Homo sapiens: one gene and its partner. The protein of the gene in region 1 interacts with the protein of each later gene in a pairwise test. Each region holds a gene or a part of one and is shown on either strand. Other genes may lie near its edges.

Region 1 (3,394 bases):
TGCTTGAGGTCTCCATAAACAAGCTAAGTAAACAAGAGCTTCTGCCCTCTTCAAGCTCCTAGAACAAAGTTACCTGAGCCCATCCCTGGCTTAAGACCAGCCCAGCATCACTTGGAGGGATCTCCGGGACAGGTCGCTGTGGCGTGGACTAGTGGTCACGTCTGCAGGCAGCAACCACGGTCCAAGGGTGAAGGCAGTGGGAGCAGGGCACCCTCAGACTGATGATTATCCTGCTGCAGGGTCTCTCCCAAGAGACAGGGAAGGCTGTCATGCCAGTGCTGATGAATAAGCATCAGACCAAATGTGACATGTGACACCTATTAAAGAAGGCCCCCGGCCACACGCAGTGGCTCAAACCTGTAATCCCAGCACGTTGGGAGGCCGAGGCAGGCAGATCACTTGAGGTCGGGAGATCGAGACCAGCCTGACCAGCATGGAGAAATCCTGTCTCTACTAAAAATACAAAATTAGCTGCGTGTGGTGGCACATACCTGTAATTTCAGCTACTTGGGAGGCTGAGGCAGAAGAATCGCTTGAACCCGGGAGACAGAGGTTGTAGTGGGCCATGATTGCACCATTGCACTCCAGCCTGGGCAACAAGAGCGAAACTCTCAAAAAATAAAATTAAAAAAATAAAGAAGGCCCTTTACCCAGCGCCACTCACTGAGTGCCACTTGCTTCAGACACAAGAAAGGCAGACACAATTCTGACCCTCCAAACATGTCAGCTCTCACGGCAGCTGGCCCACCTGGCAACAGCCCCAGTCAGTGAAAGAGGGTTCTTTCCTTTTTATTTTTGCAATATCCCATACAAAAGCAATAGAAACGTAACAGTCTTAACAAGAAGTTTACAATTGAATATTTGAACAGAAAATCTGTACACATTATCATTTACAGCAATTTTACATGGTAAATTAACTGATTGTTTTAAAATGTTCTTTCTAAATCGCTCCACTCTGCTGCCCTAACTCTTGGAGTATTCTAAAGAGTCTAACTAGTGCTATTTACAAGTACCAAATTAAGACCATATAACTTACATAAAACTCATTAGTTTAATAGCTCAATTTAACAATGTCTGACTTCAGAATGCTGTTATGACATATTGATAAAAGGCCAAAAATTAAGTTTCCATAAAGATATTAAAGGTGTCTGAGAATACTTTGATGCCTATAAAAGTAGCTGACTCTCAATTGGTCCCATGGATTACATGGTTAAATCCAAAACAGTCCACCTGACAAGCAATAACTGAAGATGCCTGTGGAAAACCAGTTATGTAGACGTGTCAGCTTACCCTGGAGGACAACAGGGATTACGCAATTAAGCTCGCTGGAAGAGAGCTTCAAGTACTTTCTTGGACTTAGCTCCATTTACAATTTAAAACATGCAAAATATACTCACTATACATAAAATTAATGTTTCTTAAGAAAGTAAGGCAAAAATAATTCAGCATGAGCTAATGGACTGCTAACAGAGAAACCACCAGGTACAAGTGCACACACATGCTTGGTGCCTGGCCAGCCTTCCACCTAGTCGGGGAGGAGCTGTTTCTCTTCCTGGCCGCCAGGGGGCAGTTAGCTCATGGCTGAGAAGTCTCTCAAGGGTTCAGTTAAACAAGCTTCCAAATCAAACTCATCCTCCACTTGACTGTCCATGTGTCTCACCTTGGTGGGTGTGCCAGAGTACACATCCTGGAAAACAGAAGCATGGCTCGGTTGACATTCATCTCACCCTGAAAACAGGGGCCCCTTCCTACACCCCACTCCTTATGTGGTAAATCATGTGATGTAATGCACAGCAAGGTGTACACTTCACGTGCAACTGAGACAGATTTTAATAATAACACTGCAAAGAGAAACCACATGTACCATTTACAAGACACTGACGTTTAGATGTGCACACATCCCATTGTGCTGGGATTACAGGAAGGAGTCACTAGTCACTGTGCCTGGCCATGTACATAGTTTATAAGCACAGAAAGAATTGTAAAAGCCTAGACAAAACCACAAATAGTGGCTGTCTCAGGACAGGAGACAGTATTTAAACTGATACATTTAAAAACGGTTTTCTTTTCTCTTGAGACAGAGTCTCACTCTGTCACACAGGGTGGAGGGCAGTGGTACAATTTCGGCTCATTGCCACCTCTGCCTCCCGGGTTCAAGTGATTCTCCTGCCTCAGCCTCCTGAGTAGCTGGGATTACATGCCTGCATGACCACACCCAGCTAGTTTTTGTATTTTTAGTAGAGACTGGGTTTCACTATGTTGGGCAGGCTGGTCTTGAACTCCTGACTTCAGGTGATCTGCCTGCCTCAGCCTCCCAAAGTGCTGGGATCACAGGCGTGAGCCACCACGCGCAGCACATGGTTTTCTTTCTTTTTTTTTTTTTGAGACAGAGTCTTGCTCTGTTGCCCAGGCTGGAGTGCAATGGCGCCATCTCAGCTCACTGCAACCTCCACCTCCTGGGTTCAAGCTATTCTCCCACCTCAGCCTCCTGAGTAGCACGGACTACAGGCACCCACCATCATACCTGGCTATTATTTGTATTTTTGTAGAAACAGGGTTTCACCATGTTGGCCAGGCTAGTCTTGAATTCCTGACTTCAGGTGATCCGCCTGCCTTGGCCTCCCAAGGTGCTGGGATTACAGGCGTGAGCCACCGTGCCCAGTCCAAACTTCAGTTTATAAGGCAGCATGTGTTATTAACAATTCACCTGCAACCCCCAAGCTGAAAGACTTATCCAAAGTACTTACAAAGTCATCCTGAGAGCTGGTCTGGGGCTCGGAGCTGCTTTCTGCAGATTCAAGGTCTACAGGGTGTCTGTTAAACAAGATCCAACATGTGCGTCAGGCACTAACTTAACAAAGCCAGGAGACGGGGCGCTACAGACAAACCCCATCCATATGGTACAGCCACAACACTGACAGTGTGCCCGAGGCTCCCTGAGGGGTCAGCTTTCAGTGACTATTTGACAGACTTAATCCCAGCCCAATCAATCCAGCAAAGAGAAAGCGGATGGCAATGAGAAGCAACAAAAAGATCTGCTGGGCTCACCACACAAGCATCCTTGGAAACAGAAACACTCATAAGCCCAATTTTTGAGGGGGAGAAATGAGCACTGTGATGAACATACTATGCATTATCACTAATTTTTCCAAGTTTCTACTCAGAGAATGGGACAATGGTGTCACACTGGGGGAAAAAACCCAAATGACATCTGTCAGGACAAACTGGTAAAGCCACTTACAATCGTTTCAAACATGCCAGTCTCTAAAAAATTTCCCAGCACAGAGGAGAAACTCTAATTGTTTGTTTAAAGAATGTGTCTGAGGAAGCGAGAGGCTCAGGACCAGAGGGGAGCTGAGAAGAAACCCCACATAGAGGGAGGGAGGTACACGAT
Region 2 (7,247 bases), on another chromosome or scaffold:
TGTATGTATTTACGGGCTGAGTATACCTAATCCAAAAATTCAATATCTGAAATGCTCCAAAAATCTGAAACTTTCTGGGCACTGACATTGTACTCAAAAGAAATTCTCATTGGAGCATTTCAGGTTTTGGAATTTTGGATTTTCGGATGAGTGATGCAAAAGTGGTGTAATGTAAATGTTGAATATTTCAAAATCCAAAAAATTTCAAATCCAAAGCACTTCTGTCCCAAGCATTTCAGATAAGGAATATTTAACCTGTACCACGTTAAAAAAAAAAAAATCCATTGATTGTTTGATGGACATTTAAGTTACTTCCATGTTTTGGCAATCATGAATAGTGCTGTTATGAACATGGATGTACAGATACCATTCTTCTTCCTGTATAACCAGAATAGGAGTTGGTGGAGCATGTGCTAATTCTATGTTTAATTTTTTTGAGGAATCTCCACATTGTTTCCCACAGTGGCTGTACCATTTTACATTCCTGCCAGCAATGCACAAAGTACTACATTCTCCACATCTCTGTCAATGCTTGTTATTTTCTGGTGTGTGTGTGTATGTGTGTGTGTGTGTGTGTGTGTGTGTGTTTATGGCCATTCTAATGGGTGTGAAGTGGTATCTCATTGTGGTTTTGATTTGTATTTCCCTAATGATTAGTGATGTTGAGCATCTTTTCATGTGATTTTTAGCCATTGGCATATCATGTTTGGAGAAATGTCTATTCAGATTCTTTCCTCATTTACTAAATGAGGTATCATGATGTTTTGAGTTGTAGGAGTTCTTTATTCTGGATATTAATTCATTATCAGATATATACTTGCAAATGTATCTTCTGTTCCATGGGTTGCCATTTCACTCTACTGATAACGTCTTTAGTAATAAGGTTTTTAATGTTGATGAAGTCTACTTTATTTTTTCTTTTGTTGCCTGTGTTTTGGTGACATCCAAGAAATCATTGTCCAATCCATTGTCATAAAGCCTTTTCCATATGTTTTATTCTAAGAATTTTATAATTGAATGTCTTACATTTAGGTCTTTGATCAATTTTAAGTTAATTTTGTTATATGGTGTAAGGTAAGGGTCCAACTTCATTCTTTTGCACGTGGATATTCAGTTTTCCCAACACCGTTTGTTGAAAAGGCTGTTGTTTTTTCCCCATTGATTCAATGTATTTGTGAAAGTTTATTTCTAGACTCTCTTCGGTTTTATTAGTTTGTATGTCTATACTAATACCACTCTCTTTCAATTACTGCACTCCTTCCTTCTGTTAATGCTTGTGTTAACATTATTTTTTAAATGTTGAGCCATCCTTGCATTTCAGGATAAAATCCTACTTGGTCATGGCACATAATTGTTTTAATATGCTGCTGATTTAAATTTGCTTATATTTTGTCAAGGATTATTGCAACATGATAATTGTAGGGGATATTGATCTGTAATTTTCTTTCCTCATGAGGTCTTTGTCAGGCTTTTGTATCAAAGTGATGCTGACCTTAATGGAATGAGTTGGGAAGTATTTCTTCTTCAATTTTTTTGTAGTAGTTTGAGGAGACTTGGTTCTAATTCTTTAAATATTTGCTTGAATTCAGCAGCAAAGCTATCTGGTTCAGCGCTTTTCTTTGTTAGAGGTTTTCAGTTACTGATTCAGTCTCCTTCCTAGGTATAGGTCTATTCCGATTTTCTGTTTCTTTGTAATTCAATTATTGTTAAGTTGTGTATTTCCAGGAATTTGTCTCTTCTACCTAAGTTATCCAGTGTGTTGGGCAAACTATTTTTAGAAGTGCGTTTTCCAAGTGATAATTAGTGGAAGGTACAGGGTATATTGCAGTATTACAGCTTAAGATAATTATAGGTGTTTTACATCATTTGCTTTGTGATTATCCCAGTAACCCTATGAGTAAATATTAGAGCTGTTAGTCCCATTTTACGGATGAAGAAGCTGAGGTCCAAGATGCATAGGCAAAATAGTTGTACAAACTACAGAATGTAAAACTTAACAAATCTTGATAGAAATATGAAGAAAATATAACAATTTTTTTTTTCTTTTTTTGAGATGGAACCTCACTCTGACGCCCAGGCTGGAGTGCAGTGGAGTGATCTTGGCTCACTGTAACCTCTGCCTCCCGGGTTCAAGGGATTCTTCTGCCTCAGCCTCCCGAGTAGCTGGGATTACAGGCGCACGCCACCATAGCCAGATAATTTTTATATTTTTAGTAGAGATGGGGTTTCACCATGTTGGCCAGGCTGGTCTTGAACTCCTGACCTCAGGTGATCCACCTGCCTTGGCCTCCCAAAGTGCTGGGATTACAGGCGTGAGCTACCACACCCAGCCAATAATTCTTAAAAGTGGAGGCACATATTGGAATTTGGGGAGTGTGAGAGTTTTTTTTTTTTTTTTTTTTTTTTAACTTATCAAGGAACAGGTTTTTAAATAACCTGAAAAATACCACACCACATCGTCTTTCATTCTTAATCTTCATTATCTTTAGCCATCCAAAAAGGCTAGTCTTTTTATCTAAGAAATCAGTCAAGTAAAGTAATACACTATAGAAAAATACCATGTAAAATAACTAACTTGGTTTAAAAATAAAAAGGTAGATCTTCAACTTACATGTCCTGAACAATACATTCCCTTTAATAAATTATTTTTAAATTAAAAAACTGCAGAGTTTTTAGATGTCTGAGGATCCTGTCTGTATTTTCAGCTGAAACTCTTAAGATCATATTTTAAAGCTCTGAAAATTTCAGGGTTTTTTTGATGGAGTCTCGCTCTGTTGTTCAGGCTGGAGTGCATTGGCATGATCTCAGCTCGCTGCAGCCTCCACCTCCCAGGTTCAGGCAGTTCTCCTGCCTCAGCCTCCCAGGTAGCTGGCATTACAGATGTGCACCACCACGCCTGGCTAATTTTTTTGTATTTTAAGAAGAGATGGGGTGTCACCATGTTCGCCAGGCTGGTCTCATACTCCTGACCTCAAGTGATCTGCCCACCTTGGCCTCCCAAAGTGCTGAGATTACAGGCGTGAGCCACCTTGCCTGGCCTGAATTTTTTATTTGCCTTATTTGAGTGGGGGTATTGCCCTTTGCCTAGCTTTATTTAGCTGTTAGTGCTAATTTTCAGTTTCTTATTTTTCATCTTAACTGTGGCTTATATTACAGTTTAGAACACCAAAGAATTATTTACTAAGCTGTTTATTTTTCAGGTTCCTAGAAGCCAAACCAAACTGACAATAATGCTTGAAAAATTAGGAATGGATTATGATGGGCGGCCTCACTGTGGTCTTGATGACTCTAAGAATATCGCCCGAATAGCAGTTCGAATGCTTCAGGATGGGTGTGAACTCCGAATCAACGAGAAAATGCATGCAGGACAGCTAATGAGTGTGTCCTCTTCCTTACCAATAGAGGGCACTCCACCACCACAAATGCCACATTTTAGAAAGTAACAACAGTTTTGTGTGTGGATCATTCCAATTGAAGTTGCTATGAAGAGGTAGCAGATGAATCTCATTGAATTAGTCCTGTAGTGCAAACTTTAAGCACCTTAAAACATTTAAAATCTTATTACAGGTGATAGAGATAGATACATGTATGTGAACAGATTTTGTAGGAAGGCATACTGAATTCTTTGTCACCAGCACTTTTGATATGAACAGTATTCGTTACATAGTAACAGTTCCTGCTTACAACTGAATTTTATAATTTAAGGTGTTCAAGATATATTCTTTTTGGTTTTAAAATGCAAAATCTTATTGGCTGTTCTGTTGAATGTCATATCTTACTGGTGTTTAAATATGTAATGTGTTTCTTTATTAACATCACTAGATGAAACCATATCTTAAAATGCAGAAATGATTGGAAGGTAGATCTTATCTAGCCTTTGGATTTCAAGAATATCATAGTCCTTTTGATTTTCAAAGTTTATATGTGAAGTTCACCATGTATGTGGTGAATTTCGTAAGGTACTTGGTATACATATCTGCCTATGTTTCTTTTCAACTCATAATTGGAAGAATTATGATGGATTATAGGGTTTGGTTAAAAATCCAGTTACTGAAGGAATTAATGAAAACGTAGAAGAAAGTACTAAAAGGAATATCATAAGGGCTGTAGCTCAAACTTCATAATACATAAATCACTGGGGTCTTTTTGGATTTGGTTGTTTGATTCGCCTTCCTTTTTTGACATATGTATGCCTTAATTCTTAAATCTGAGGGACCATGCTTTGAAATAGACTGAAAATTAAGGGTCACCACCTAATTTTACTTTGTATTCAGTATCGTAAGTGAGGTTAATAAAGTCAATACTTTCTACCATATATTACGTTTTTGTTATTAAAAAACTTCATTGGCCACTAGTGAAGTTAGTCAATAAAAGACTTGTTTTTCTGATTTTACATAGTAAATGGCTGCTAAGTATTGAGTAATTCTTAACTAATTCTAAAAACTAAAATGTGCATTTCGACTTGATAAGGTAAAACTCTTATCTAGAGGCTAAACCCATGTATTTTCAGAATTGAATTTTTCTCCTTGTAGCTTTCAGGGAACAATTTCATTGACATTGCTTGCTTCCTGCCTTTTACCTTTTAATAAAAATTGTGATGCTACTTTATTCTAAAGATTTATATTTTATAACCAGATGAATTTCCTCAAAGGTTTCCAAACCTATATCATATAGGGTGAAAAGCAGGAAAGTAGACATTTTTCTTGGCGTGGGAATTCTCTACATAGGGCAGTAGATTTCTTAAGCCAATGAATTTCTGCTTTTCAGCAGTAGTCATATAATCAGTATCATAAAGAATAATGTGTAAATAACAGAAGGCATATGAGAGTGTGGTGTTCCTAGATGAACTGTTACAGATTATAGTAAAATAAGGAAATCTAAGTGCTTTAAGTTTATACAGTTAACTCTTAGGATAAGAGGGATGTATGCTGAGATGTTTGTGCATCCCAGATAGCACTGTACAATAACCTGTAAAGTATTACTGAATACTGAATAGCTGAAACTGCAATTGGAAAATCTGATGATGACGAGGAAATATTACGTTTCCAGTTTTTTTAGCTCTATCTGCTAATTTCTTTGCCTGTTTTCACTTTCGCCAAGTACCAACAAGCTCATGTTGTATTTCTTTTTAAGAACTTCAACATTATAAGCTCTCAGTACCCTATTTTGTTGTTGTTGTTGTTTGAGACAGAGTTTTTGCTCGTCTGCCAGGATGGAGTGCAGTGGTGCGATCTTGGCTCACTGCAACCTCCGCCTCCTGGGCTCAGGTGATCCTCTTGCCTCAGCCTCCTGAGTAGCTCAGATTACAGGCGCGTGCCACCACACCCGCCTAATTTTTGTATTTTTGGTAGAGGCGGGGTTTCACCATGTTGGTCAGGCTGGTCTTGAACTCCTGACCTCAAGTGATTTGCCCACCTTGACCTCCTACAGACGTGAGCCACTGCGCTCAGCCATAGATTTTACTGTCTTAACCCATTTTAATTCCTCTGTTGAGTCTCTGTCCTCCCCTCCAATTTGATTTGGGATTTTGCTGATGAGATGATACTAAACATTGAGAGTACTGCTTTTTACTCTGACTTTTATTGTGTTGTCTTTGAAAGACAAATAGTACAACTTTTTACAAGGAAACACGTAAGAGATGGATGTCCATGAAAACAATATTAGTATATTCTATTATTGTTTCTTATTAATAGTTACTTAGTATTTACAAACAATTTATTATTAGCTGTGTTAACTTTTATTCTATGCTTCATATGCTCTGACATTGACATAGTGGATTTCTGCTGATTTTTTTCAAATCCGCAATCTTTATAACCAACTGAAGTATATAATAGAGCATTACATTTTATCTTTATTTGTGTTCTGTTGGATCAAGTATTTAACATTTGCTCTGAAAAAAATGTTTTTGTGATGTGTCTTTGTTGCCTTGAGATAGATCCATTTATCCTGCCTCCTAGGGAGAAGTTTCTGCCTGGATTGAAACAAAAAAACACAGGCGTCACAAGCATGTTACCTATTAAGAGAGAGAGGGTATCTCTGAAGACTAATTAAAATGGTAATTTTTAAAAAGATGTGACCAGTTGACTTTTAGTATATCATCCCAAGTATTATCCCCAAAATGATAATGCAAAACAGAATAATTTGGAGACCAGGAGAAAAACTGGTATGATTACTGGGGAGGGGAAGAAGCACAGGTGGTCAAGATAATAATGCATGTTTGGCCTCAGCTGTAGTTGCCAAAGAAACTACCTGCCTCACAGATGAGCACGCACGGGTGCATTGTCAAAGTCTGAGAAGGATGTATTGTACTTTGAAGGAAGACTTTCCATTTCTAAGCTACCATGGAGAAGTATATGCTCCTCGAGACCAGAGACTGTGACTTCTGCATCTTTGATTCCAGCGACATATGATAAAATGTTTTGCACATAGTTGAATCCAGCGTTGATACATGAAGGACAGCATTACATCTTTTTTCTATTATACTTAGAAATTTCCTCTTTGTTCTGCACCACCAACCTGTATATCAAGCCTCCTTGCCCCACAAAGCTTCCAAAGCCCGTAAATTTGTTAATCTAGAGCAGGGGTCAGCAAACTACCACCCATGGGCCAAATCTGGCTGCTGCCTATTTTTGTATGGCCTACAAACTATGGTTTTTATATTCCCTTTTGTTAATGGCTCAAAATAATATTTTGTATAATACGAAAATTACGAAATTTTAGTTTCTCTAAATAAAGTTTTGGAAAGAACTACCATTCTCATTTGTTTTCATGTCATCTCTGACCACTTTTGTGCTACAATGGCAGAGTTGAATAGCTGCATCAGTGGCACCATCTGGCCAGCAAGGCCAAAAAATACTACTGTCTGGCCCTTTATGGAGAAAGTTTGCCTACCCTTACCTCCCTTATGTAATGCAATATATAAGTTCCATCAACAAACAAGAAATGCGACTGTGATGAGAGCGTAGAGCTGAATGTTAAGGTACAATGATACTTGCATCAGACATTTATGGAGCACTGTTAAGTACTTTACTCCATTGTTTAGTAAGAATCTGGTGATGGAGAGAGGCATTCTCTGCAGTTTACAGATGGGAAAGTTGAGGTCCAGAGCGGTTAAGTTGCCAAAGTTTAAGTAGTGGGAGCTGTAGATTCTGGCAGTATGGCTTGAGCCTTGCTCTTTATCTCTGTGCTATGCTGCCTCCCGTTGTAGACTTTGGCTTAACCTGATATTCCAGGAACAGGTAGGTTGT

The links.
Region 2: the proteins of SLBP (region 1) and ERI1 interact in a two-hybrid assay, tested with the Homo sapiens proteins (one study listed by BioGRID).

What each region holds. Positions count from the first base shown.
Region 1 is NC_000004.12:1,692,027-1,695,420, forward strand, and holds the end of SLBP (histone RNA hairpin-binding protein), read right to left. Parts: intron 2,815-3,394; coding exon 2,748-2,814; intron 1,688-2,747; coding exon 1,571-1,687; 3' UTR 705-1,570; downstream 1-704. UniProt on the Homo sapiens protein: RNA-binding protein involved in the histone pre-mRNA processing.
Region 2 is NC_000008.11:9,026,592-9,033,838, forward strand, and holds the end of ERI1 (3'-5' exoribonuclease 1), read left to right. Parts: intron 1-3,200; coding exon 3,201-3,443; 3' UTR 3,444-5,957; coding exon of another isoform or gene 5,958-6,020; 3' UTR 6,021-6,747; downstream 6,748-7,247. UniProt on the Homo sapiens protein: RNA exonuclease that binds to the 3'-end of histone mRNAs and degrades them, suggesting that it plays an essential role in histone mRNA decay after replication.